4 linked regions of the Homo sapiens genome follow. The protein of the gene in region 1 interacts with the protein of each later gene in a biochemical or structural test. Each region holds a gene or a part of one and is shown in the gene's direction. Other genes may lie near its edges.

What was found.
Region 2: the proteins of PIAS1 (region 1) and SATB1 form a complex in vitro, tested with the Homo sapiens proteins (2 studies listed by BioGRID, with this or other methods).
Region 3: the proteins of PIAS1 (region 1) and SIAH1 form a complex in vitro, tested with the Homo sapiens proteins (one study listed by BioGRID).
Region 4: the proteins of PIAS1 (region 1) and SUMO1 form a complex in vitro, tested with the Homo sapiens proteins (6 studies listed by BioGRID and IntAct, with this or other methods).

What each region holds. Positions count from the first base shown.
Region 1 is NC_000015.10:68,190,303-68,194,371, forward strand, and holds the end of PIAS1 (E3 SUMO-protein ligase PIAS1), read left to right. Parts: 3' UTR 1-3,545; downstream 3,546-4,069. Other genes in the region: CALML4 (calmodulin-like protein 4), read right to left, coding at 3,713-3,810. UniProt on the Homo sapiens protein: Functions as an E3-type small ubiquitin-like modifier (SUMO) ligase, stabilizing the interaction between UBE2I and the substrate, and as a SUMO-tethering factor. Catalyzes sumoylation of various proteins, such as CEBPB, MRE11, MTA1, PTK2 and PML.
Region 2 is NC_000003.12:18,380,338-18,387,373, reverse strand, and holds part of SATB1 (DNA-binding protein SATB1), read left to right. Parts: intron 1-762; coding exon 763-975; intron 976-7,036. UniProt on the Homo sapiens protein: Crucial silencing factor contributing to the initiation of X inactivation mediated by Xist RNA that occurs during embryogenesis and in lymphoma.
Region 3 is NC_000016.10:48,361,378-48,368,413, reverse strand, and holds part of SIAH1 (E3 ubiquitin-protein ligase SIAH1), read left to right. Parts: intron 1-2,526; exon of another isoform or gene 2,527-2,936; coding exon of another isoform or gene 2,937-3,027; intron 3,028-5,410; exon of another isoform or gene 5,411-5,983; coding exon of another isoform or gene 5,984-5,985; coding exon 5,986-6,834; coding exon of another isoform or gene 6,835-6,937; 3' UTR 6,938-7,036. Other genes in the region: LONP2 (lon protease homolog 2, peroxisomal), read right to left, coding at 6,818-6,937. UniProt on the Homo sapiens protein: E3 ubiquitin-protein ligase that mediates ubiquitination and subsequent proteasomal degradation of target proteins.
Region 4 is NC_000002.12:202,207,572-202,214,607, reverse strand, and holds part of SUMO1 (small ubiquitin-related modifier 1 isoform a precursor), read left to right. Parts: intron 1-173; coding exon 174-251; intron 252-3,801; coding exon 3,802-3,873; intron 3,874-6,605; coding exon of another isoform or gene 6,606-6,740; intron 6,741-7,036. UniProt on the Homo sapiens protein: Ubiquitin-like protein that can be covalently attached to proteins as a monomer or a lysine-linked polymer.

The sequences.
Region 1 (4,069 bases):
AGTTTGTTTCCATCAGTTGTTGACTTTCCAAAATGTTGCATTAAGTAATAGTTGTCACTCTGTTGGTCTCATGGTCAATATCAATCAGACTTTCATGATCTCTACTAATTATTAGTAGAGTCCTGTACTATGTCTGTAACTACTAAGTTTAAAGAAAAGCACATAGTCACTTCATCTCTTTTTTTCTTAGCCTACGCTCACTCCCCAACCCATCCCAACATTGACATGCTATCTGTGGACAAATAGCAGTTCTCAGAATCTAGTCAAGTTGCCATCATCCCCCTTGCCTTGGCCGTTCATAGTAGGTATGCATATGTTTGTTTCTGTACAGTACTGTGTGTGTGTGTGTGTATATATATATACATCTGTATGCACACATCTTTGATAAAATAGCTATTTGACTAGCAGGGTTAAAGTGGCTTTTAATTACTTCGTGAGTGTTATTGGATACATCTTAAAAAAAAAAAATCTGAACCAGAACCATGCCATACTTGGTTGACTATTTTGAGCATTAAAATTGCTTTACTAATTATTTAGACATGATCACAATTCTGTATCTTTACTGAGGAAAGATTCACGTAAGCTCTGAAAAATCGGATTCTTTGGCAGATTTTCCTTTGAGTCAAGTGTCTGAAATGGAGTGAAAATATATCCTAACTAAATTAATGTGGAAAGAGCATTTTTTTAGACAATTTCAATTTTAAACACATAAAACTTTCAAGATCTTCAGGACTTTTTAAAGCACATTTGAAATTATTTTAGTAAGAATTTTGTTTTATCAATAGATGTTGAATTCTGTTTTTTAATTAAATACAAAGCTTAGATTTCAGAAAGAGAGGGAAAATAGCTGGTGGTCCCAGAGTGTGCTGCTGTTAATTGTTTAACAAAGGGGAAAATGTACATAAACAGATAAAGTTACCATAAATTCCATGAACTTAAATCTGTGATTCATTGCCTTAAAACTTTCTCTCTTAGAATTTCCATACCGCATGCCAAACCAGTAAAATGGCTTTTAAAAATGTATAGTAGACAATGTCAGTTTGTATAAAAGTACCAAGTGAAAATATTTATTACATGCATTGGAAAAAAATTGTTTACCTATTGAATGTTACCTGTTTATGTAGAGCTCTTTAGATGTAATAAAAGAAAAGCCTTCAGTTAATTTGTCTTCTGTAAAATAACACTGCTGGATGTTCAAGGGGACAATCCCTATGAGACAAGTGATAATGGTTTGTGCTTCCAAAGCACCTTTCATCCAGAGATTTCAAAGCATGACAAGTAACTAACTAATTTTCTTGCAGCATGCTTTGAGGTAAGTAATGAATATAGCCATCATTTCCCTTTCTTGTTGAAATATGGCTAACTCTTTAATAAATCACAGCATCTGTTTAGTATCTGCAGTTTGAATGCTAAGAGCACCGTGGCCTTCTTGTAAACAACACTAGGTGCTAGAGAAACCAGCTGGAATTTCAGGAATGAGCTTGAAACCAGGACCAGGAGTAAGGTAACAGCCCTTCCTCGGGTAGAGGTTTGAATCAAACACTTAATAGGATCTTAGACTCTGGACCACTGAATCCCTTAATGAGCAGGGAGTCCGTGAAGAGGAGCCCCAGGTTCTAATGACCATTCCACACCAACTGTGTGTTTTTGGCAAGTTATATTTCAGATTCCTGTTAGGCAAATGAGATTCATAAAACTTGCTTTAAAACCATACTGGGACTATTCAGTGATAAATATAGACATAGAAAAGCTTTGACGGAAAGTACCCTCATTTATTATATCCAGAACTTGCTCTTCCTGTGCCATCTAAATCATTGGTATCTATCTCCCATCTAATCTTTGGTATTCCAGGTTGGCTGTGCAGGATTTACTTCCTAATGTCCATGACTGGAGCTCAAAAGAACTGTGGGCCTAGGACCTTTGAGCTTTGCCTGAAAGTGACAGCAGTTCTCTCGGCGGGGCCAGCATCTAACCGGCCCTCTGGTGGATTTACCATGAAGGTAATGAAGTTTAAGCACCAGGACCCTTCACTTGTTCTGGTCCTAGGAGCAGCCCCAGAAATTCTGCATTTCTGTTTTTGTATTCTTAAGGCAGCCAAATCTCGTAAACCTCAGACCCCACAAAACATCTGCTCCTACACTGTGTGGACCTGGGCTTCCCAGCCAGATGGTCACAACTTCACCTAGTTGGCATTTGGGCCATTTATTTACCCTCACCCCACAAAACTCTTTGGCTCCTAGGAATTCCTCCTCTCCTTGCAGTTATGCTTGGGGAAATGAGAGTCTCCTTCCTCAGGGCCTTGTTTGGGTCTGAAGCCACACAGCATCGTTGAGACAGTTGCACTAACACTACAACTCTTGTTCCCTGCAGTTTTCCCTGTGCCCGGTGCCTAGTGAAAGATTTGTGTCTTGTACATCCTCCCAAAAGACACATCCCATTTGATTTGGTTTTCTTCTACTTTAGCCACTGTGGTACTACTAGACAAAGCCACAGCCCAGAGAACCCACTTTTGATACATACATGGATGCAAATCTTTGTACTTGAAGCCCTGCACCCCTACCTGTGTTGGTGTGGTACTCCAGCCCTTTTAGGACTGTGCTGGCACTACGAATGATCCAGATTTGACAAGTGTATGGCACCTCTGAATCTCTGGCAGCACCAACCTGGCACCTTCTAGCTGTGTAACTCACTCAAAGCCACTCCAGCTGGATGGACTCCCAGAAAGCCTAGTGCTCCTACTACTGTTTTCCAGGGCTGTTGTACCCTGGCCATTGCTGGTTACATCCCCTTATTTCTCTCCGTAAGTCCTGGGGAGGTGGCTTAAGGCAATGACCAGTGTGGGCCACTTGAGCAGACCATCCCGGAACCTCTCTGCCTGTTAACAGAGCCCAGGGAACAGCTCGGAATTCTCACAGCATTGGAAGCCCCCTTCTTGAGCTCTGCAAGGCCAGTCAATTTAGCAGCTCACATCTGGTTTCCTTTGGTGTGGGGTGTAAAGTAGATCGCTCTTCCTGCTCTCAGCTGATGCTGCCTCATTGTAGCATGTGTTTTCACTCTAGTGTTTTCACTCTACACTCTGTGTTTATGAATGAATAGCCTGAGCTATGTCACTATATCTGTTGAGATGGAAATGAGAATTTGTAAATGGGCCTCTGGCACTGCAAGAATTGTTGTCATAAGTGTTACAGCTTTCTGTTCATTGCTGCTTCTCAGCTAGCACTGGCTTCATCTTGGAAAATCTTGGAAATATGGAAGATGGTTCTAGCCCCCAAATACAGAATAAGTCTCTTGGTAGATTGCCCTTAAGTCATCAGCTCAATCCTTCCTCAACAGGCTCCATGAGGTAAGAAGTGGGAATCCAGCTTGTGTGGGGGGGCTTTGAGGAGTGAAATGATTTGCCCAAAGTCACAGTGGGAAGCAGCAGAGCCAGGACTGGAACCCAGGCCAGACTCCAAACCGCAGGCTCCTTCCATGCTTGAAAGGGCCGGACTCACGGTAGTTAATAAAATCAATACAAATCTTTTATTAAAGATCTACTCATACCATGGCTGAAATCATCTATTATTGTTGCTAGTTAGCCTCTCTTCTATAGTTGGGTAATGTTGTCTTGCCACTGTGTTTGCCATCTCTCCCAAGTGAAAAGAACACTTTTTAAAAAAAATTAATTGCTCCAAGTTTTCAGGCCCAGGGGAGGCTCTCCCATTCTCCTCCTTCAATAGTCCCGTCCAGGAAGGGTGATCTTGTGGATAAATTCATCATACTTCACTTTGCCATTGGGTTCGATATCTGCTTCCCTGAAGAGATCATCCACTGCAATAAATCACATTTAATTTTTCAGTTTGGCTTTAGTGTTCCATTATAAAACAGTGAGTTTTTTGGGGACTGGAGCTCCCCTAAGGTCTTCCCTGAGCGTGCAGTTGACTATTCCTGTAGACCAGGAAGTAAACCAGTGAACAGAAAGGGACAACCCATCCCTGCACTCCTGAGACCCTTATTCCATTTTGAGCTAATCGGGCTTTCTGCAGGGGCAGGGAGTAGGGAGGTGTACTGGTAAGGATTCGGTCACTGA
Region 2 (7,036 bases), on another chromosome or scaffold:
TTTTCCTTGGCATGCTGTGATGGACTTTCGCAATGTTGAAAATTAGTTAATATATTTCAAATCTTGTCTATGGTTTTTAAAGTTCAAAATTTAAACCTGTTACCCAGTGGTATAATACAGCAAGATAGTATTTAGAATCATTTGTGATAATCAGTGAGGTTCTCTGAAAATGGTAAATTGAAAGGGTCACGTAGTGTCATGTACTTTGATAAGTCAGAGTTTAAGGAATAATTTTAAACATTGCCTGTGAAAATACAGCATAAACCTTAGGTGATGCTTTAGTAATAACCTTTGTTCTAATATGTTAAAATTCATTTTCTGGTATTTTCTTTGAAAGTTCTACTTCTCTAGAAATGGCTTTGTATCTTTACATATTGGGCTGTAGGCATTACACTGCCTTTGTCTAGGCAGCTTGGGAACTATACAGTTCAGTGCTGTTGCATTATAAGGATTTCGTTTATTCTTAACTTCCCTGGATCGTCTCTCTGTGAAAGATTTCATGGCAAGTTAAGCTACTCAAAGGAAGGAGACCAATTAGGCAGTTTCAGTTTATGTTATATGTAAAGCAGATGCTTAATAAAATTAAGAATACAATTGAGGCTCTCTTCTCTACCACTTCAGTTGTAACTAATATATTCCTATGCAGAATTAATGCCTCTGACTGTTCATTTTCTAAACAGAGTGGAGAAGAAAAGGGAAGGATCACTGCTGGCCAGGCAAAGCAAGGCAGCAGGCTCACCCTGTGCCTTTCATTTCTTGCAGGGCTTGCTTTCAGAAATCCTCCGAAAGGAAGAGGACCCCAAGACTGCATCCCAGTCTTTGCTGGTAAACCTTCGGGCTATGCAGAATTTCTTGCAGTTACCGGAAGCTGAAAGAGACCGAATATACCAGGACGAAAGGGAAAGGAGCTTGAATGCTGCCTCGGCCATGGGTCCTGCCCCCCTCATCAGCACACCACCCAGCCGTCCTCCCCAGGTGCGGTCTCCTTTTCCTCCTTGCCCTTCTTTGTTTAGCTTTTTTTTAATGCTTGAGGAAGAATCTCAATAAGAAATTAGATAGATAGATACATAGATTTATATGTTTTTAAATTCGTATAGTTGCTTGAGGAGAATTTGGTCCCAAATCATTAATTCTGATATAAAAACAATAAGCTCCTAATTAGATAGAGGGAAGAAAATTGCTTTGTGTTCCTTCATTCTTTGGGTTATTTGGGGGTGAAAGTAGTCTTTAAATGGGATATTTGTCTCTACTGTTGTTATTAAGTAAAGTATTTTAAACTCAATAGAAAAAGAATAAAGTCAGTTTTTTCCCAACTGGTTTCAGAATCGCCATTTGAATAGTAAATAAATAAAAATAAATAATTTCATTTGTATTTATACTTTCCAGTACGAACTGCAGCTGGTACCAATTACACACCATCTCATTTGTAATCTTTCATAATTAAGTTTAATAAAATCCTTGAAGGCAGCTTTAAATGGGGCTGATAAGGAATTCTATCCATACTCCAAGATACGGGCATGTTTTCTCTTTCTTAAAATTTTTGGACTTTTTAGGAAAGAAAGTTGCCTTCCGGGTAACTTTGGGTATGTGAATCTGTATTGTTTTTTAAACTAAGTTTTAAAAGTAACCTCATAACTGTTATAATTCAGTAAATCAATTTGCATTACAAACCCTTAGATAAAAGTTTGCTAGTTAGTGTATTAGACTCAAAAACCACAAGCAAATATATTATCTTTTTTTTTTTTTCTTTTGAGATGGAGTGCCGCTCTGTCACCCAGGCTGGAGTGCAGTGGCACGATCTTCACTCACTGCAAGCTCTGCCTCCCGGGTTCACGCCATTCTCCTGCCTCAGCCTCCCAAGTAGCTGAGACTACAGGCATCTGCCACCACGCCCAGCTAATTTTTTTGTGTTTTTAGTAGAGACGGGGTTTCACCGTGTTAGTCAGGATGGTCTCCATCTCCTGACCTCATGATCCTCCCACCTCGGCCTCCCAAAGTGCTGGGATTACAGGCCTGAGCCACCGCGCCCGGCTGCAAATGTGTTTTCTTACATGTTTAACTTGTGACATTTACAGCTCTTAAAAATAAGGTCAGTTAAAATTGGATAAAAATTGAACATGGAAGAAAAAGTCGAAATATTCATATGACAATCTCATAGTGAAATTGTATCTCGATTTTACTTCATTCTCATCAATGGTAGAAAGTGGTTATACATTTTCATGTATAGAAATCTAGAAAAAACTCATTCAACACTAAAGAGTGAAAGTACTACGGATACTGCATAAATAAGAAATATTTAGCCACTTGTTGAGTAGCTAAATAAACTGCTTATCATAAGGTTCTGAAACTATTACTTTTTAGAAATGTCACAAAATCCATTTTCACTAGTTTATTTAATGAAAATCAATCTGGTCTTGATGTCTATAGGAACAGACTATAAGGAAATCATTGCTATAATTGTGAATAAAAAAGTCATGCTTCTTTAGGAGAAAAGCATGGCATCTATATACGTATGTACACACCCACCTGCCCACGCACACAAAGTTATTGAATTTGATCTCTAAATGCTTCTATAAAATATTTCCTAAGATAAAGAATGAGGAACTCTTTATGTATAAAAAATATGACTTCTAAGTATGGTTAAAGAGAAAAGATAAACTATGACTTCTAGGAATGATAAAAAAGAAAAAATATACGAAATGAAATAAAATAATTTGGTTTGGTACTTTTTCTGTAGTGTTTAGTGTTAATACACACACTTTTATTAGTTAACTTTGCTCCTGAAGTCACCACTGACAGGGCTCTGAGCAGAGAATTACTTTACTTATCACTTAATCTGCAATACTAATAAAAGAATGGCTTACTTAAGACCAATATGAACTTCAACATTGAACTGCTTTAAAAAAAAAAAAAAACATCTAGCCAGATATTTGACTTTGTGGTTCCTTAATACAGCTTTTGTTTTCTAATTTTTCTAGGACTCTGGTTTTATTTATTTTCCAAATGTGATTTGGGTGTCCTTACTCATCAAGCTTTTTCTTGAGCTAAAGTTATACCAATTCTTATTAAGTGATATTTCTTTTCATATGCTGTTAAGATACTATAGGATAACTTTCCTGTATGTATGCTTAAAGGCTTTATCTGCTGATAAGTTGGGATAGAATATATGTTTAATTTATTTTTGCCTGAATTATTGGTTAACTGGTTGTGCCACCCTTAGCTGTATTTGTTTGTTCTGAAGAGGAGCTGAGACCAAGCCCATAGCTAGGGTATTCAGCCAATGATGAAAATATACAGTATATACATACTGTAGATTCTTAGTGAAACTCTTTCAAATAAAACATTTCTATTACTGCAGTATTACTGGCCATCTAACCAAACTCCAAAATGACTAACTGATATGTGTATGTGTGTGTAATTTTATTTTGCTGCTGCAATATAAATCTTTAAATTATTAATATTATTATAATGGAGATCACTACCAGTTTGTTCACATTCTTCCCTTTAACCATGATTAAATGAATTAAATTTTAAGAAATCTTAAGGTATTAAAGGTATTATCAATGCAAAATTAGTACTTTAGATTTGGAAAAACACGTTATAGAGCACTTGAATTAGTGCTGTCTTGTAGCAGTTGAAATAATGAAATGATGCTTAAACTGGAACCAGTATGCATATTAAAAATGAGTTAAAATAAAGGATAAAATGGAGAAAACCACAGATAACACAGACTGCAAAATTTTGTCTTTTTAAATTTTACATTTTGCCAAAGAGGAGTCCATGTGAAATCAGTATACATTTCATTTCCCCCAAAATGAGGAGATTTGAAACATATTTTGAGACAAATCTTGGGTTTGGGTTGCACCTGAAACCTGATTTCTTTCTAAAGAACCACATGTTAAAAGCAGAGGCCCTCAGTGGTTCACAGAAAACCCAGCCCCCATTAAGGCCTGGGAAACTGGATTCTCTTCCACCTCTTTATAGAGTGTAAAACATGCAGAAGATGATTTTGGAGTGCCCTTGGGACATACCATAACAAGGACCTAAACTATTGAAGGACTTGAATTCTAAGTCATCTTCAAGAAAGGACTTCCTGGCTAGTCAGACCCCACCTGGGGACACCTAGCCTCAGGAAACACCAGAGCTCCTTGGTGGCCCAGTCCAGGTGAGATGCCTCCCTGCAGAGGTATCCCATGTGCTCCAGTAGGGACAGTTATGCCCTGTGCTTCATCCTCTGCCTGGGCTATAGGCTCTGGGCCAGACCTGGTTGCTGCAAACATTTTCACAACTTACATGCTCTAATTCAACAAATAAGAATATCTTGCACCTGATAATGATTCACACCCTAACTTGATAAAAGCTATTCTGAAAGCAGCTGAATACATTAATTCATTGAATCCTCATACCAACCTTTCCCTAGAAGAAAAATGAGAAAACCAAGTTTAAGGTTGAGTCAGAGTTTTCAAATCCTCTGCTAAGTCTCTTGCTCCTTCCTCTACTTCAAGCCACCTCCTCAGAATAAAAGCAAACTTATTTTAGAAAGGGAAAAGTGAAACTTGGAGATCTTTTTGTTTGTCATAGAGGATGGGAGGTTTTCTTGTTAGAATGGGAAGAGGAGCATGTGCTAAAGCATTGTCCTAATGAAATAACTTGTTTGACAAATTATCCAGTTGGGAAAACTAGACAATGGCATTTCTGGGATTGTGGGGAGAACAGCCCCTTTTAAACTTTGGTCTCATGAAAATATCTGGGAGAACCCAGTCCTCCCAGCTTCCTTGGTCTTAAGGTTTCTTTTCACTATAAGCTTTGCAGATTTTCCTGATGAGTTTATTAGAGGAATTTTTATGAACAATAATAATTCATGATTATTATCTGAGAATTGTATATTTTACAGAATTTTAAGTGATGATTTCTACCGTAAGGGTATACTTTTTAAAATTTGATTTGTGCATTTTATGGTGTGTGACTTTTGGAGTTAAATTAATTTAGCAGTTTGTTTCCATGAAGACTGTTTGAAAGCATATAATTACTGAGTTACAGCTTTTACATGAATTACACAAAAGTCTTTTTTTCTTCATTTTTTACATCTCTTTATGTAATTCTTCATTTTTTACATCTCTTTATGTAATTACCTAAAGAATTACTAAAGGTATGCTATTTCATAACAATGCTTTAGAAAATTTATGAAGTTAATATAAACAGTATATGATTAATCTGGTAGTTGCACTATTTTGTCTCTTTACAAGAAATCCCTCTACGATATAATGAAACATAGGTTCATCTTGATTTCAGGTTCAGTTACAGGCAGGAACTTAACACTTGGTAAAAGTTTTATTTCTTATGAATCCCTTGAAGATCATTTTAAGATGTTGCTTATGTGGTTATAAAATGCATCCCATTAATTGTCGTCTTTTAAAAGCTGGAAGACTTTTAAAGGCTAGATTTGGAAAATAATACTGTTCCTGGAAGGAAAGAAATATCTAAAAATATGAAACCATGGTGCTAAAGACAGTGTTAATATATTAAAATTTGAGAGTGGGAAATATTTTCCATCACTAATAAGCATCCATAAAAGAGGACATTTCTTATTTTCATTAATAAGAAAATATAATTTTTATACCCTGAAAAATAAATTTAGATTGGATTTTAATCAAAAATCAATAGCTATTAAAAAATTAGACATTAATGAGCTAGATTTATCAAAGGGCCACCAAAAAACAAGTCCAGCCTGCTCTAAAAATTAAGAATTTTTTCAAGTAAAGAAGGTGCAGGTAATGTCATGAACTCTAAATAACTTTGGGTTTCTAGTTAAGTTTAGATCTCAGCATTGCTCCACCAACAAATTGTTTAACCTGTTTGTTTTAACGGAGTTTTCTCAATTTTAAAATGGGACAATCATAATACCTCCTCCGGGCTGTTAGGCAAGTTAAGAAGTTAATATACATTAATACAATGTCCAGCACATAATAAACAACTAATAAATGTCAGTGTTTATTATCACAATTATTAAAACTACATATAACTTTAATTTTGCTTGTGTAAAAGCAGTGTGCTTGCAGGCAATTCTTCATGCATCAGAGTAGGATGTTCACCAATCAAGGCTGAAATAGAGTTCATTTCGTGTAAAATCTAAAAGCATGATTCAATGCATACAGCAATCCATGAAGAAGCAAAATAGAGTTTTTATGGAAAATGTGTGTCCTGCGGCACAATTTTAGTGAAATAAAAAGCAGACTCTAGTGCTGCACCCTATCCCCACATGGGAGGGTAAGTAGTAGAAGCTCCAATTCTTAACTACTTCCCCGGCGCCGCCTTAATAATGGAGTAGTACACCCTACCTTGATAAAAGCTATTCTGAAAGCAACTGCATTTATTTTACCTCCTGTGCTATTTGCGGAGAAGAGCTGAACAGTAGTTTGTTTTGCCTGGAATGAACTACTTTATGAATTTTAATGTGTGATATAATATTAAAAGCTAAACCAGGATTAAAGAAGATTTTTTTGTACTAAGCTAAAATAGTACTTAGTAGAGTGAGGTATAAAAGATTTTTGTTTCCATTTTTACCTGGGGAAAAATTCAGCTTTCATATTTTTGAAAAGCTGTCCAAGTCAGTTTCCCTTAAGCAATAGCTTGTGTTTAGGAAAAAAAAAAATGTGATTCTAGAATTCTAATAGCTTATCTATGATAAGATGTGTATCTGGGCCAACAAAATGGTAAAGAAGAGCTTTCCTAAATATTTTTTAAATGAGTAGTACAGAGATACTTTCTAACTTTGTAATTGTTAAAGTTTCACCCTCACATTCTTTTTTTAAAAAAAAATATTTCTTGTATACTTTTTTCACTTTTGTTTTGATTGTGTTGGCTACTAGGAAATGATTTTTTAAAATAATTTAGAATTTGTGCTTGATTATAATTGCTTTAAAATAAAAAAAAAAATTAACCAAAGAAGTTTTTAGAAACAAAGTCACAGGGTTGAAACAAATGATTATAGCGCACCTCAAAGATAAATTCTTAAACATCATTTTTACAAAATAAT
Region 3 (7,036 bases), on another chromosome or scaffold:
GTTTTTTGTTGTTGTTGTTTTTTACTAAATTAAGAATAAACATGTTTTACTTTTTGCTCATTTTGACTGTTTTCACAGTTGTTAATCAGACTAATCTTTATAAAGCAGTTTATTGTCCCCTTTGGAGAAAATACAGCTAAAAATCACCAGTATCCTCATATAGGTAACTGATTCATTGGTCTGATGTTGTAGCCCTCTTGGTTTCTCACCCCGTCCCTCACGTCTGTGTTCTATTTGTAACTTCATTTACAATATATTATGATTTTTTTCCATATCTGACTACATTTCTCCATTTTAAACTTTTATAAGTAATTTATAAAAGGAAACAAAGATTACCACGTGGAATTGAGAATAAAAGTTTATCTTTCTACTGTTAAGTATGCTAAGGTGGTAAAGCAATGGCTGAATGCTCTGAAATTACTAAGACAACATTAAAGGCTGATTCTAAAATGTTTTTGTTTAGATTGACATCTACTTAAACTATATACCAAACTGGGCTTGGGACGTAGGCTTTAGAAAGTGTAGGTAATAGTGCATTCTTGCTAAGTTTTGGATTTTTGCCAGTTTTGGATTCTATGGGCTTGTCTTAAGGTACTTCTGTGAACTTTTCAGCTTTTTGTAAAACTAGTGTAAATATTCTACCTAGTTGAGAATTAAGGTTTATTGTGCTAAAAATTAAATGGTGGTTGATTCTTGGCAGACATGTTTGATCACCTTTGCAAGGTTAAGGCATCTTTTGGAGTGTGTTTCTTGGAATCTACAAATTCTGAGTCTGTGACTAATTGATGACTTGGCAATTAAATCAGGTCTCAGCTGAAAACTTAAATATTCTGGAATATGTACCATCCATGATACACATAAATTACCCATCTCAATCTAGACAAAAGCCAGTTGAGGCTGGAAACAGTCCAGTTTTACAGCTCAACAACTGGTGGAGCCGGGGTCTGAATCCAAGTGTAGATGACTCTAGAATGCTTCCACTTTTCTGACTTAATTAAGTAGAGGGGCCTGTCCATAGATCAGTGGTTTTCAGAGTGTGCTGTAAGGCTCTGTACAGATCTTTTGGAGTTTGGTAAACAGTGAAATATCTTTTGCTTGAGAAATAATCAGTCATCTTTTTGTTGTATACATTTTGGTTCTGTTTGGAAGAGTTTCTCTATATGAAATTTTCTTCTCTAGGGAAATTTAAGACCTGTCGAATGAAAAAATATTAGAAAATAAAAATATAGACTGGGCACAGTGGCTCAGCACTTTGGGAGGCCAAGGCAGGCTGATGGCTTTAGCCCAGGAGTTCGAGACCAGCCTGGGCAACATGGGGACTCCCTATCTTTACAAAGAAAATTAACGAGAGTGGTGGTGCCAGCCTGTGGTCTTAGCTACTGGGGAGATTGAGGTGGGAGGATTGCTCGAGCCCAGAAGACCGAGGCTGCGGTGAGTGGAGATTGTGCCACTGCACTCAGACCTGGGCAACAGAGTGAGACCCTGTCTCAAAAAAAAGGAAAAAAAGTAGTTGTGGGGCTGACTGTGTCTATTTTCAATTATATTTCTTTTCCTAATGCTGTTTTGTGTAGCCTGTATTGTAAAACGAGGTTGAGGTGATTGAACACACTTAATAGAGTGAGGAAGTGGTTAGAGTTAAAATTTCCTGCTGAAAGTGGGTAATCTGCAATTCCTTGCATTGGGTTCACTCCTCACTGCCAACTCTTGCTGCATTTTGAGGCTGCCCTAAGCATGATGTAATGACAGGTTAAACCTCTGCACGCACTAGCTGATGCAATGCAAATCTGAGGCGCAGGACTTTATTGGGGCAAGGGTAGTGCTTGTTTAAAAACAAAACAAGCTACTCTGCGTTTAATGAGGCCATTTAAGATGGCTTTCCCAGAGTGGGAAGAGAGTATAATCTCTTAGGAGGTTTAAGTAGGAGTTTAATGTGGCAGAAGTGTGCTTACTACTTTTCCTGCAAAGTCTTTTCACAGTGGGTAAGGAGAGTTTAAAATATAGTGCTGATAGGAGTAGAAATGAAGTGAGCTAGAATTGAGGAAATATGGTAGTTGATGCCCGGTAAATAGCCGTTGAATGAATTAGGGAGAATGTTTTCACTCTAAAAATTTAGAGTTCGCACGATAAACCTGGAGCGTAGCGCCAGTGTGGCCACGCATTTCCCAGATACGCTGTAGCTCTTAGATCGAAACCATAAGAAACTGCCGATATTCGACTGTTCTGACCTACCGAAAATAGCGTGGTTCCACCTAATTTTAAACTGGTGGAAATGCTGAGGAAGGTTCGATGTCGCTGGGGTGGGATGGGGTCAACGGCGGGGTGGCGGGGGCTCCCCCACGCCCCCGGCCTTTGGCTGGGGGGCGGGGCTTGCGGGCACGGCCCCACCCTTGCGCGAGCAAGACGGGCATCGCCCTGTGCGCCGCGCGCCCTGAACTGGCCCTGGCGCCCCGGGTTGGAGTAGGCGTTCCCAACGCAGGCCCAGCCCCGGCCGAGGCTCCAAATGGCTCTCCCGGCAGGCAGGCTCCTGCAGTAACTCTTGAGCTGGCTCAGGGAGCGCACTTCCTTCTCAGCCAGCGCGTCGCCCCCTGCATCCGTGGCCTCCACTGGAGCTGGGCAGGACCCTACCCAGTGAATCTGGAGAAAACAAACTTGGGAGACAGACGAAAGCTTAGGGCACATTGGAGGACAGCGCAGCTGTGGCTCCCATTTTTGGAGATGCAGTCGAATTTGAGCTCACAGGGAGGTGTGGTTGCCTCCTGGGGATGGAAAGGCTTCCTTTCTCCACCTCTGTAACTGGTGCTTCTGAGAAGTAAATGGTATTTGGATCCTGACCTCAGACGCGAATTTGGGTCTTCTGTGCTTAGGAGCAGAAAGAGCCCAGGAGGGGCCTGTTCCTTTACTTCTTGGGGGAAACGCAATGCGTGGCCTGACTTCTCATGACGGGAAAGGCTACTCCACCTTCTCTGTACTCCTGGAGGGGAGTCTTGTTCACATGTTTACCAGCGGCCAGGACAAGGAAGAGAAAAGGTATTGACATTAAGAGGATGGTTTGCTGAGGCTGTGAAACTTGAACGCTATTAGTCAGTGGAACCTGCCTGGCTTAGGGAATGGCTGCAGCAGAATCGAGACGTTTCCGAGGTTCTCAGTCATGTTTCATTTGGGCTGCTGTTCTTTTTTCTGTTTAAATCAAACTTCAGGTTACGTCATGACTTCTGCAGGGCTGTCCTTGGTTCCTACTGCAGGGCGCCTGTGTGGTTGGGATTCCTTTTCTGTTTCAAGATGGAGCTGGGTTCCACCCTTGGAGCTTTGAGAGGCTTTAGCAGTTGCTGTCCTGTAATACCTCCGTTCCCAAGAAATACCGTTCACATTTCGCTTCTTTTTCACACTTTGAATAGGAGTTAAAATGTGCTTTCTGTAGTGTTTGGAAAATGGCAAAGATATATTGTAATGTGAGCCCGAACTGTTGTTGATAAATGTATAACTATTGCTAGGTCAAGAAATTGTGAACAACAGTGTTTTGCTTGGTCCGTAGCTATATTGTGTTAAATATAAACTGAGTTTACTGCCCTTGGATGTGATTCTTTGGTTTGATTTAGTAATTTGAAAGGCATTGGTTGACTAGACTGTTTTTTGCCCAAGGAACCACTTTGTAATTGTTACGCTGCTTACTGAAGTAAACTGGACCATGCAGTAGGCATACAGCATACAGCCAGGGTGTTTTGGCAATGCTGAGCCCACTGTTTTACAAGTGACATAAAATGGATGTCATATGTACAAAGAATCTACTGAGAGGGAAACTGGATTACAGGAGAGCTCCCTTATAGTCCTTTGTCAGGGGACAGAATACCTGGGTCACACTGGGCTTCAGATTGAGAGTTGATTCATGTTCTGAGTCCATATGATGAGACACATTACGATGGAATTGTCACTTTTGTTGCCTCTGGAACTTTAAAATACCCGTTTAGTGACGTGGAATTAATCTTTATTTTTTCCGTCACCCTCAGCCCTCATTTAAGCTATCAGTTGGTAACCACTTGGGTAATCTAAACCTAAGTTGCATTTATTTGGTCACATTGGTAACCAACATTGCTTCTTAAAAGTTCCTTGCAACAGAATGACTATAATTGAGATAAAACATTAATTTTGAGGCTTTAATTTTGTAATATGGATTAGTGGCCGGGCGCAGTGGCTCATGCCTGTAATCCCAGCACTTTGGGAGGCCGAGGCGGGTGGATCACGAGGTCAGGAGTTCGAGACCAGCCATGGTGAAACCCCGTCTCTACTAAAAATACAAAAATTAGTCGGGCATGGTGGCGGGCCCCTGTAATCCCAGCTACTTGGGAGGCTGAGGCAGGAGAATTGCTTGAACCTGGGAGGCAGAGGTTGCAGTGAGCCGAGATCGCGCCATTGCACTCCAGCCTGGGCAACGAGCAAAACTCCATCTCAAAAAAAAAAAAAAAAAAAAAAAAAAAAGATTATGGCTTAGTAGAGTTACTAGGAGTGCAGTCTTAGGACATTGACTGATCTTTTTTTTCACCCCCAAGACAAATAGTGGCCTGCCATTTTCCAGCCCAGGTAGCTTCCTGGGAAAAGTTGCTTGTTTTATCTTTGACTCAGCCTGGCTAGTTACATTGTCGATTATTTCTTCCAGATGATATTTACCTGTTAAATAATGTTTATTACTCTGCTGATGAATGTTTTCAGCAACGCTGGAGAACCCTAGGCTGCAAGGGGTTCTTCACCTGTTGACTCCATCCCCCACCCCCAGTATGGCATATATCTCTGCCGTGCTATCATCTTTATTCTTTCCTTTTTCATTGTCTCTTCCTGACTGTCCTCCTTTGTTCATTATGTCTGACACATATTGTGGATTGAAAGTAGAACAGAAAGATATACTTTCTCTACCAGACTAAAAAGTTTTGAGATGGCCCTCCATTTCTCCCATGCCTCACTTCACCTTAGTTGTGTTTTTATTTATTTTTATATTTTCGCCACCTTCACTAGCGAGTACATCCCCTCACTCTTGAGGTGGGCACTGATCAGTAGGAAATAAGATTAATACCTGGCTGGTGATAATTTGGGGGGAAGACTTAATTAGATAGAGATGGATAATGGGATGGCAGCAGACCTTTCCCCTTGTGACCCTTCCCCTCATTTCCAAAATACACCTCTAGAGTAGATAATTGCTTACCATTAAGAAGAGTTAATGGAAGGTGATACTCTGATTCTTTGGCATTGGAACTACATTCAATCCGCGGTATCCTCGGATTAGTTCTAGGACCCCCTTCTCCATACCAAAACCTGAGGATGCTCAAGTCCCTGATAGAAAATGGTGTCATATTTGTATGTGCATATTCTCTTGTATAATTTAAGTGATCTCTGGATTACTTAATACAATGTAAACAATATGTAAATAGTTGTTATAGACTGTATTTTAAAAATTTTGTATTCTTTATAAATTTTTCTGAATATTTTCAATCCATGGCTGGTGAAGTCCTCGGATGCAGACCGTGTGGATACAGAGTGCCGATTTTATACAGGAGTTCACCTGTAACTCCCTGTACCTATCAACAGCTGACTCCAAATTAGAAAGAAATAGAGTAAGGGAGCCTCAGGGAGAGTCCTAGCAAAACGGATTCGATTAAACTTCAGTTCCTTGTATAGTTTCTTTAGTTGTTTATGGTCCATTTTCTATTTTAGCATTTATTATTCTATGTAGTCTATCCAAAGACGATTAAGGGAGTTCCACATGTTTTCCGGAACATTTTGAAAAGAGAGCTTATCCAGTGTACAGATCCTAATAAAGTGCACATTCAGTGTAATTTTATTTTTTTAATATCTTTTTTAATCCTATTTTTCTTCCTCTTTTGCTCAGTAAATTTTGTATGAAACTTTAAAAGGACTTATGGCATGTAAACATTATTTATAAAGTAAGTCATGGTTATAATTATTTTTCTCCTGCCTCCTTATGTATTTATTTCAGAAATGAGCCGTCAGACTGCTACAGCATTACCTACCGGTACCTCGAAGTGTCCACCATCCCAGAGGGTGCCTGCCCTGACTGGCACAACTGCATCCAACAATGACTTGGCGAGTCTTTTTGAGTGTCCAGTCTGCTTTGACTATGTGTTACCGCCCATTCTTCAATGTCAGAGTGGCCATCTTGTTTGTAGCAACTGTCGCCCAAAGCTCACATGTTGTCCAACTTGCCGGGGCCCTTTGGGATCCATTCGCAACTTGGCTATGGAGAAAGTGGCTAATTCAGTACTTTTCCCCTGTAAATATGCGTCTTCTGGATGTGAAATAACTCTGCCACACACAGAAAAAGCAGACCATGAAGAGCTCTGTGAGTTTAGGCCTTATTCCTGTCCGTGCCCTGGTGCTTCCTGTAAATGGCAAGGCTCTCTGGATGCTGTAATGCCCCATCTGATGCATCAGCATAAGTCCATTACAACCCTACAGGGAGAGGATATAGTTTTTCTTGCTACAGACATTAATCTTCCTGGTGCTGTTGACTGGGTGATGATGCAGTCCTGTTTTGGCTTTCACTTCATGTTAGTCTTAGAGAAACAGGAAAAATACGATGGTCACCAGCAGTTCTTCGCAATCGTACAGCTGATAGGAACACGCAAGCAAGCTGAAAATTTTGCTTACCGACTTGAGCTAAATGGTCATAGGCGACGATTGACTTGGGAAGCGACTCCTCGATCTATTCATGAAGGAATTGCAACAGCCATTATGAATAGCGACTGTCTAGTCTTTGACACCAGCATTGCACAGCTTTTTGCAGAAAATGGCAATTTAGGCATCAATGTAACTATTTCCATGTGTTGAAATGGCAATCAAACATTTTCTGGCCAGTGTTTAAAACTTCAGTTTCACAGAAAATAAGGCACCCATCTGTCTGCCAACCTAAAACTCTTTCGGTAGGTGGAAGCTAGACACATGAAGGTAAATAAAAAGAAAGGCTGTTAAATACAGGAAACAGTTGCATGTAGTAACACTAATATATTTAAAAATAAGTCAACAGTAAACC
Region 4 (7,036 bases), on another chromosome or scaffold:
CACTGTTTTAAGAAAACCTGTTAAGAATGCTAAAAAGAATATTGTGGTGGAAAAATACAGGTTACAAGGTTTATGTTTCTATTTGCACTATATGTGTAATTAAATAGTTTGGTTCAAGTAAAGCAAATGATTTATACAAAGAGGGATAATTTTTTTCTTTTTTATCTCCTTAGGATAGCAGTGAGATTCACTTCAAAGTGAAAATGACAACACATCTCAAGAAACTCAAAGAATCATACTGTCAAAGACAGGTTCGTCCATTTTGGTATTAAGTACAATGCTTTGTCGTTAATTTTTTTTTTTTTATAGAAGATTGTCAGAAGAAAAATCCTGTTTTATTATTTTCACCATTAGCAACTCAAGGAAAACACTCTATCATTTCTTGTACCCTGCTTAACTGCTTTTTTTGTCTTGTGGCCCATTTTAAAGTTTGAATTCGTAAGATGGGAACTAGTTTGAAAAGTAACTCAGAATTGTAAAAGCGAGCTCAAATGAATGTTTCTGTCTTGATGGCTTACCAGTATATATAGCAAAAAAGGCAAGTAATTTTTTGGTGATTACTATGGATTGTTTTTGTACTTCTAATCATGAGTGTTTAGCCATATGTTAAATTTAAGTAGTAGTATTATTAGTATATTATCTCTCTTTTTTTTTTTTTTTGAGATGGAGTTTGCTCTTGCTGCCCAGGCTGGAGTGCAGTGGCACGATCTCTGCTCACTGCAACCTCCGCCTCCCAAGTTCAAGTGATTCTCCTGCCTCAGCCTCCCGAGTAGCTGGGATTACAGGCATGCACTACCACGCCCAGCTAATTTTGTATTTTTAGTAGAGATGGGGTTTCTCCATGTTGGTCAGGCTGGTCTCGAACTCCCGACCTCAGGTGATCTGCCCACCTCGGCCTCCCAAAGTGCTGGGATTACAGGCGTGAGCCACCAGGCCTGGCCTTATAAAATAGGTTTTGAAAATAAATGTAATTGGAATTAATATGAGACAACCAAGATATAGTTTAAGTGAAATTATGATTTAATAAGCAAGAAATATATGTTTAATCAGTCTTAAATTAAATTATAGGCTGGGTGCAGTGGCTCATGCCTGTAATCCCAGCACTTTGGGAGGCTGAGGCGGGCGGATCACCTGAGGGCAGGAGTTCAAGACCAGCCTGGCCAACATGGCAAAACCTTGTCTCTACTAAAAGTACAAAAATTAGCCAGGCATGGTGGCGCATGCCTGTAATTCCCAGCTAGTCGGGAGGCTGAGGCAGGAGAATCACTTGAATCTGGGAGGCAGAGGTTGCAGTGAGCTGAGATCATGCCACTGCACTTCAGCCTGGGTGACAGAGCAAGACTCCATCTCAAAAAAAAAAAAGAAAAAAGAAAAAAAAGAAAAAAAATTGAATTATATTACATAATATTAACTCAGGTATTGTAAATTTTATTTTCATTTATTTATTTATTTCTTTGAGATGGAGTCTTCACTCTGTCGCCCAGGCTGGAATGCAGTGGTGTGATCTCAGGTCACTGCAACCTGTGACTCCCTGGTTCAAGCGATTCTCCTGCCTCAGTCTCCCGAGTAGCTGGGATTACAGGCATGCACCACCACGCCCGGCTAATTTTTGTATTTTTAGTAGTGGCGGGGTTTCACTATGTTGGTCAGGCTGGTCTCGAACTCCTGACCTTGTGATCCGCCCGCCTTGGCCTCCCAAAGTGCTGGGATTACAGGCATAAGCCACCGTGCCCGGCCTGTAGATTTCATTTTTAGAAGGTTTGCTTTTAACAGTTTAAATTTGTAACTCACATTAAAAAAAACTTATTATAAGAAAGAGAAACTAGGTGTTAGGATAAGTAAAACAATAAGCATTTTTGTCTCTTCTGTTTTTGTAGATTTTAATTGTTTAACTTAATAAAATCACATTAATTGGGGTTCAACTACTTCACATTTGTAATAACTTTGGGTGTTAAAATTGAGATGAAATTCATCAGGGGAAAGAAACATTTATTGAAATCTCAATTATGTGTACTGTGCCATAGGTATTTAAGATACATTATTGGCCAGGCACAGTGGCTCACGCCTCTAATCCCAGCACTTTGGGAGGCTGAGGCAGGCGGATCATGAGGTCAGGAGTTCGAGACCAGCCTGACCAACATGGTGAAACCCCTGTCTCTACTAAAAATACAAAAATTAGCTAGGCATGGTGGTGCACGCCTGTAATCCCAGCTACTCGGGAGGCAGAGGCAGAAGAATCGTTTGAACCCAGGAGGCGGAGGTTGCAATGAGCCGAGATCACGCCATTGCACTCCAGCCTGGGTGGCAGAGTGGGACACTGTCTCAAAAAAAAAAAAAAAAAAAGATTCATCGTCATTTAATTTTCATAACTCTGAAGAAAATTCATATAGTCTCTACGCCCCCCATCTGTAGGCCAGGGAATTGATTTTTTTTTTTTTTTTTTTTTTGAGACAGAGTCTCACTCTGTCGCCTAGGCTGGAGTGCAGTGGTGCCGTCTTAGCTCACTGCAACCTCCACCTCCTGGACTCAAGTGATTCCCAATGCCTCAGTCTCCCGAGTAGCTGGGATTACAGGCACCTGCCACCAGGCCTGGCTAATTTTTGTATTTTTTTTTGTATTTGTATTTGTATTTTTTTTTTTAGACAGGGTGTTCCTCTGTTGCCCAGGTTGGAGTGCAGTGACACGACCTTGGCTCACTGCAACCTCCACCTCCCGGGTTCAAGTGATTCTCCTGTCTCAGCCTCCCGAGTAGCTGGGATTACAGGCGCGTGCCACCTCGCCAGGCTAATTTTTGTATTTTTGGTAGAGATGGGGTTTCACCATGTTGGCCAGGCTGGTCTTGAACTCCTGACCTCTAGTGACCCACCCGCCTCGGCCTCCCAAAGTGCTGGGGTTACAGGCTGAATCACTGCGCCTGCCCCGTAATTTTTGTATTTTTAGTAGAGATGGAGTTTCATTATGTTGGCCAGGCTGGTCTCAAACTCCTGACCTCAAGTGAGCCGTCTCTCCCCTTTCAGCTGTTTTTGTTGAAGAGTGATTAGAAAAATGTATACTAATATATTTTGTAATATTTATGGTGCTATCTGTGCCATCCAGGTTTATGGTAGATGAGCTAGCTAGCCATTTGCGCTTTACCAGATTTTATGATAATGTTGGCCAGGCTGGTCTCAAACTCCTGACCTCAAGTGAGCCGTCTCCCCTTTCAGCTATTTTTGTTGAAGAGTGATTAGAAAAATGTATACTAATATATTTTGTAATATTGCGCTATCTATGCCATCCAGGTTTATGGTAGATTAGCTAGCTAGCCATTTGTGCTTTACCAAATTTTATGATGTAATCTGTTTAAAACCAATTTCGCCAGTATAGTTGGAAGCTAGTGAGGGTGCACGTCCAGTTTCTGATCTGATCTTTTATTCTAGCTTACAGATTTAGGGCAAAGTGAATCGAGTAGTGGTCAAGAGCATAGGCTTAGAAACAGGTTTGGGCTTAAATTCTTGGCTAGCTCCAAGCCTTAGGTTCCCTAGCTGTAACATGAAGATAAGGTGGTAATACCTACCTTCCAGGGTTGTTGTGTTTAACACTTATGATTATGTATGTAAAGAATTGGTACAGGGAGGGCCTTGCAAATAGTTGCTACTCAGTACAGTATATAGTATTTATGATTGAATTAGCTTGTCTAATTTTATTTTCTATGTAGTGTTCTAAGGCTTTCATGCTTGCTTTTTGTGCATCAAAGTTACCATTATGTTTTCTAATATTTGTGTGTGTATGTATGCATTATTATTATCTTTACCTTTTTAGGGTGTTCCAATGAATTCACTCAGGTTTCTCTTTGAGGGTCAGAGAATTGCTGATAATCATACTCCAAAAGAAGTGAGTATACTTTTCTCCTGAGTCAAGAAAAAATTTAAATTCTCCTTTGAGCAGTTTGGTTCACTGGTGTTAAAACTGCCCTTTTCTTGAATATTCTCTGATTTAAATGGCATATCATTTGTTGGAGAGAAGAAATAATGTTTTGGGTTGAACTTCCCCTATAGTGCCTTTAAAAGTGCCAATAAAAAGGGTGGTAGAAACAAAATGAGTACTGAAATTGTCATAGGTCACATGCTACATCCTTTTTGAAGATAGACAAATGTTCCTCAAATTTGGTAAATTTCTGGTATACTTTCATGGTGATGGTAACATTAATGGCTGGATTTTCATTTTTGACCTATTTTGAGAATGTTAATACAGAAGCATAGTGTATATTAATATATTTGGCTCTGTCATCTTGTTTTACCCTATTTTTTTATGCTTCTCTGTCTTCATTTGATTTTTTTATTCTATGAGCAGTTTGCTTTGCTTTTATATTCCACCCATCTTCCCTCTATAGAGATATCTCAAAGTAGTGTGTGTGTGTGTGTATGTGTGTGTGTATCTATATACATAGATTCCCTTCATACACAGAGTAACATTACTGATATTTCTGATAGTGGGAACAATATAGGGTTATTAACTTTTTATTTTGAAAATATTTCAAACTTACTGAATTGTGAGAATAGTGTAATACTCTCCTGTATAACTATTCCTTAGATTCACCAATTAAAATTGCACAGCATGTGGGCCAGGCACGGTGGCTCATACTTGTAATCCTAGCACTTTGGGAGGCCAAAGTGGGTGGATTGCTTGAGTCCTGGAGTTCAAGACCAGCCTGGGCAACATGACGAAAACCCGTCTCTACTAAAAATAAAAAAATTTGGCCAGGTGCAGTGGCTTATGCCTGTAATCCCAGCACTTTGGGAGGCCGAGGTGGGCGGATCACGAGGTCAGGAGTTCGAGACCAGCCTGGCCAGTATGGTGAAACCCCGTCTCTACTAAAAATACAAAAATTAGCCGGGCGTGGTGGCATGTGCCTGTAGTCCCAGCTACTCGGGAGTCTGAGGCAGAAGAATCGCTTGAACCCGGGAGGCAGAGGTTGCAGTGAGCCGAGATTACGCCACTGCACTCCAGCCTGGGCAACAGAGCGAGACTCTGTCTCAAAAAAAAAGAAAAAAAGAATTAACTAGGCTTAGTGGTGCATGTTTGTAGTCCCAGCTACTTGGGGGGCTGAGGTGGAAGGATCACTTGAGCCCAGGAGGTCGAGGCTGCAGTGAGCCCTGGTCATGTCACTGTGCTCCAGCCTAGGTGACAGAGTGAGAACCTGTCTCAAAAATAAAGTAAATAAAATAAAATAACATTGTGCAGCATTTGATAGCTGGGATTGGTGGTGCACGCCTATAGTCCTAGCTGCTTGGGAGGCTGAAGCGGGAGGATCACTTGAGTGAGCCCAAAAGTTCGAGACGAGCCTGGATAACAGAGCGAGGAGTCCCCTGTCTCAAAAAAAAAAAAATATTATGTTTTTCTAGTATGACTACTAGAATGCAGTCATAGCTCACTGCAGCCACAAATGCCTGGGCTCTAGCAATCCTATCACTATCAGCCTCCTGAATAGCTGGGATTACAGGCATGTGCCACCATGCTCTGCTTTTAAATTTTTTGTAGAGATGGAGTCTCCCTATGTGCCCAGGCTTTGATCACTTAGTTTAAGTGTTGTCTCTTTTTTTTTTTTTTTTTTTTTACTTTGTAGTTAACTGTTTTTCCTGTTACAATTAAGTAATTTGAGGGGACACACTTTGAAACTATGCGAATATCCCCTTTCTCATCAAATATTCCCCTTAGGTTTAGTGTCCACCACCTTCTTGAACACTTCCTTACTTTCTGGCACAGTAAGAAGTTCCAAACTCATCTTTTACTTTCCTTTAACTTGGCATAATCTCTGGGACCATACAGTAGATATCTAATACATTTTACTGACACATGCCTTACACATTCCTTGTAATTAAGAGATTATTTTTTCAGAGGAATGTTGGTGCAGTGGGAGACAGTAGGTCTTTAGGGAGTGACCCTCCTGTGCTGTTGTTCACTTGTCTCTGTTAATGTACTTCTTGAAGTTTGTAGCTTTATATTCTTTATAGCTCAAGGACTCATGCTGTCTTCCTGTTTTGAAGGTTTCTAATAACACTTGGAATTTTATTCCTTGCAGTATTTACCATGCTATATGGGCAATTAAAATTGTTTTAAAAGCATCTTTTTTTTTTTTTTTTTGAGATGGAGTTTTGCTCTTGTTGCCCAGGCTGGAGTGCAATGGCACAATCTTGGCTCACCGCAACCTCTGCCTCCCGGGTTCAAGCGATTCTCCTGCCTCAGCCTCCTGAGTAGCTGGGATTACAGGCATGCACCACCACGCCTGGCTAATTTTGTATTTTTAGTAGAGACGGGGTTTCACCATGTTGGTCAGGCTGGTCTCGAACTCCCGACCTCAGGTGATCTGCCGCCCCCCCAGCCTCCTAAAGTGCTGAGATTACAGGTGTGACCCACTGCACCTGGCCTAAAAGCATGTTTAATAATTATTTAAATATTCAAATATGTTCCACAACCAAGATAGCTTAACACTACTAGAGCCATTCTGATCACTTTAAAATCCTAAATTCACATGTGTTATGTTTAGATTTCTTAACATACTTTATTTTCATATTTAAAATTCTGCACAAAAATGTTACCTATAAAATTTAAAACTTTTTGGTCAGGCACAGTGGCCCACGCCTGCAATCCTAGCACTTTGGGAGGCTGAGGCGGGCTGGATCACTGCAGGTCAGGAGTTGAGACCAGCCTGGGCAACATGGCGAAACCTCATCTCTACTAAAAATAGAAAAAGTAGCCAGGTATGGTAGCGCACGCTTGTAGTGCTAGCTACTTGGGAGGCTGAGCTGGGAGGATTGGTTGAGCCCAGGATGCTGAGGTTGCAGTGAGCTGAGGTTGAGCCCAGGAGGCTGAGGTTGCAGTGAGCTGAGATTGTGCCACTGTACTCCAGCCTGGGCAATATAATGAGACCCTGTCTCAAAAAACAAAAACAAACAAACACCAAATTAGATATATCCTATTAAACTATCACTTAAACTATTAAATACATGTTTCATTAGATTTAAAAGTTCTTTAACATGGCTGTCAAAAACACTTC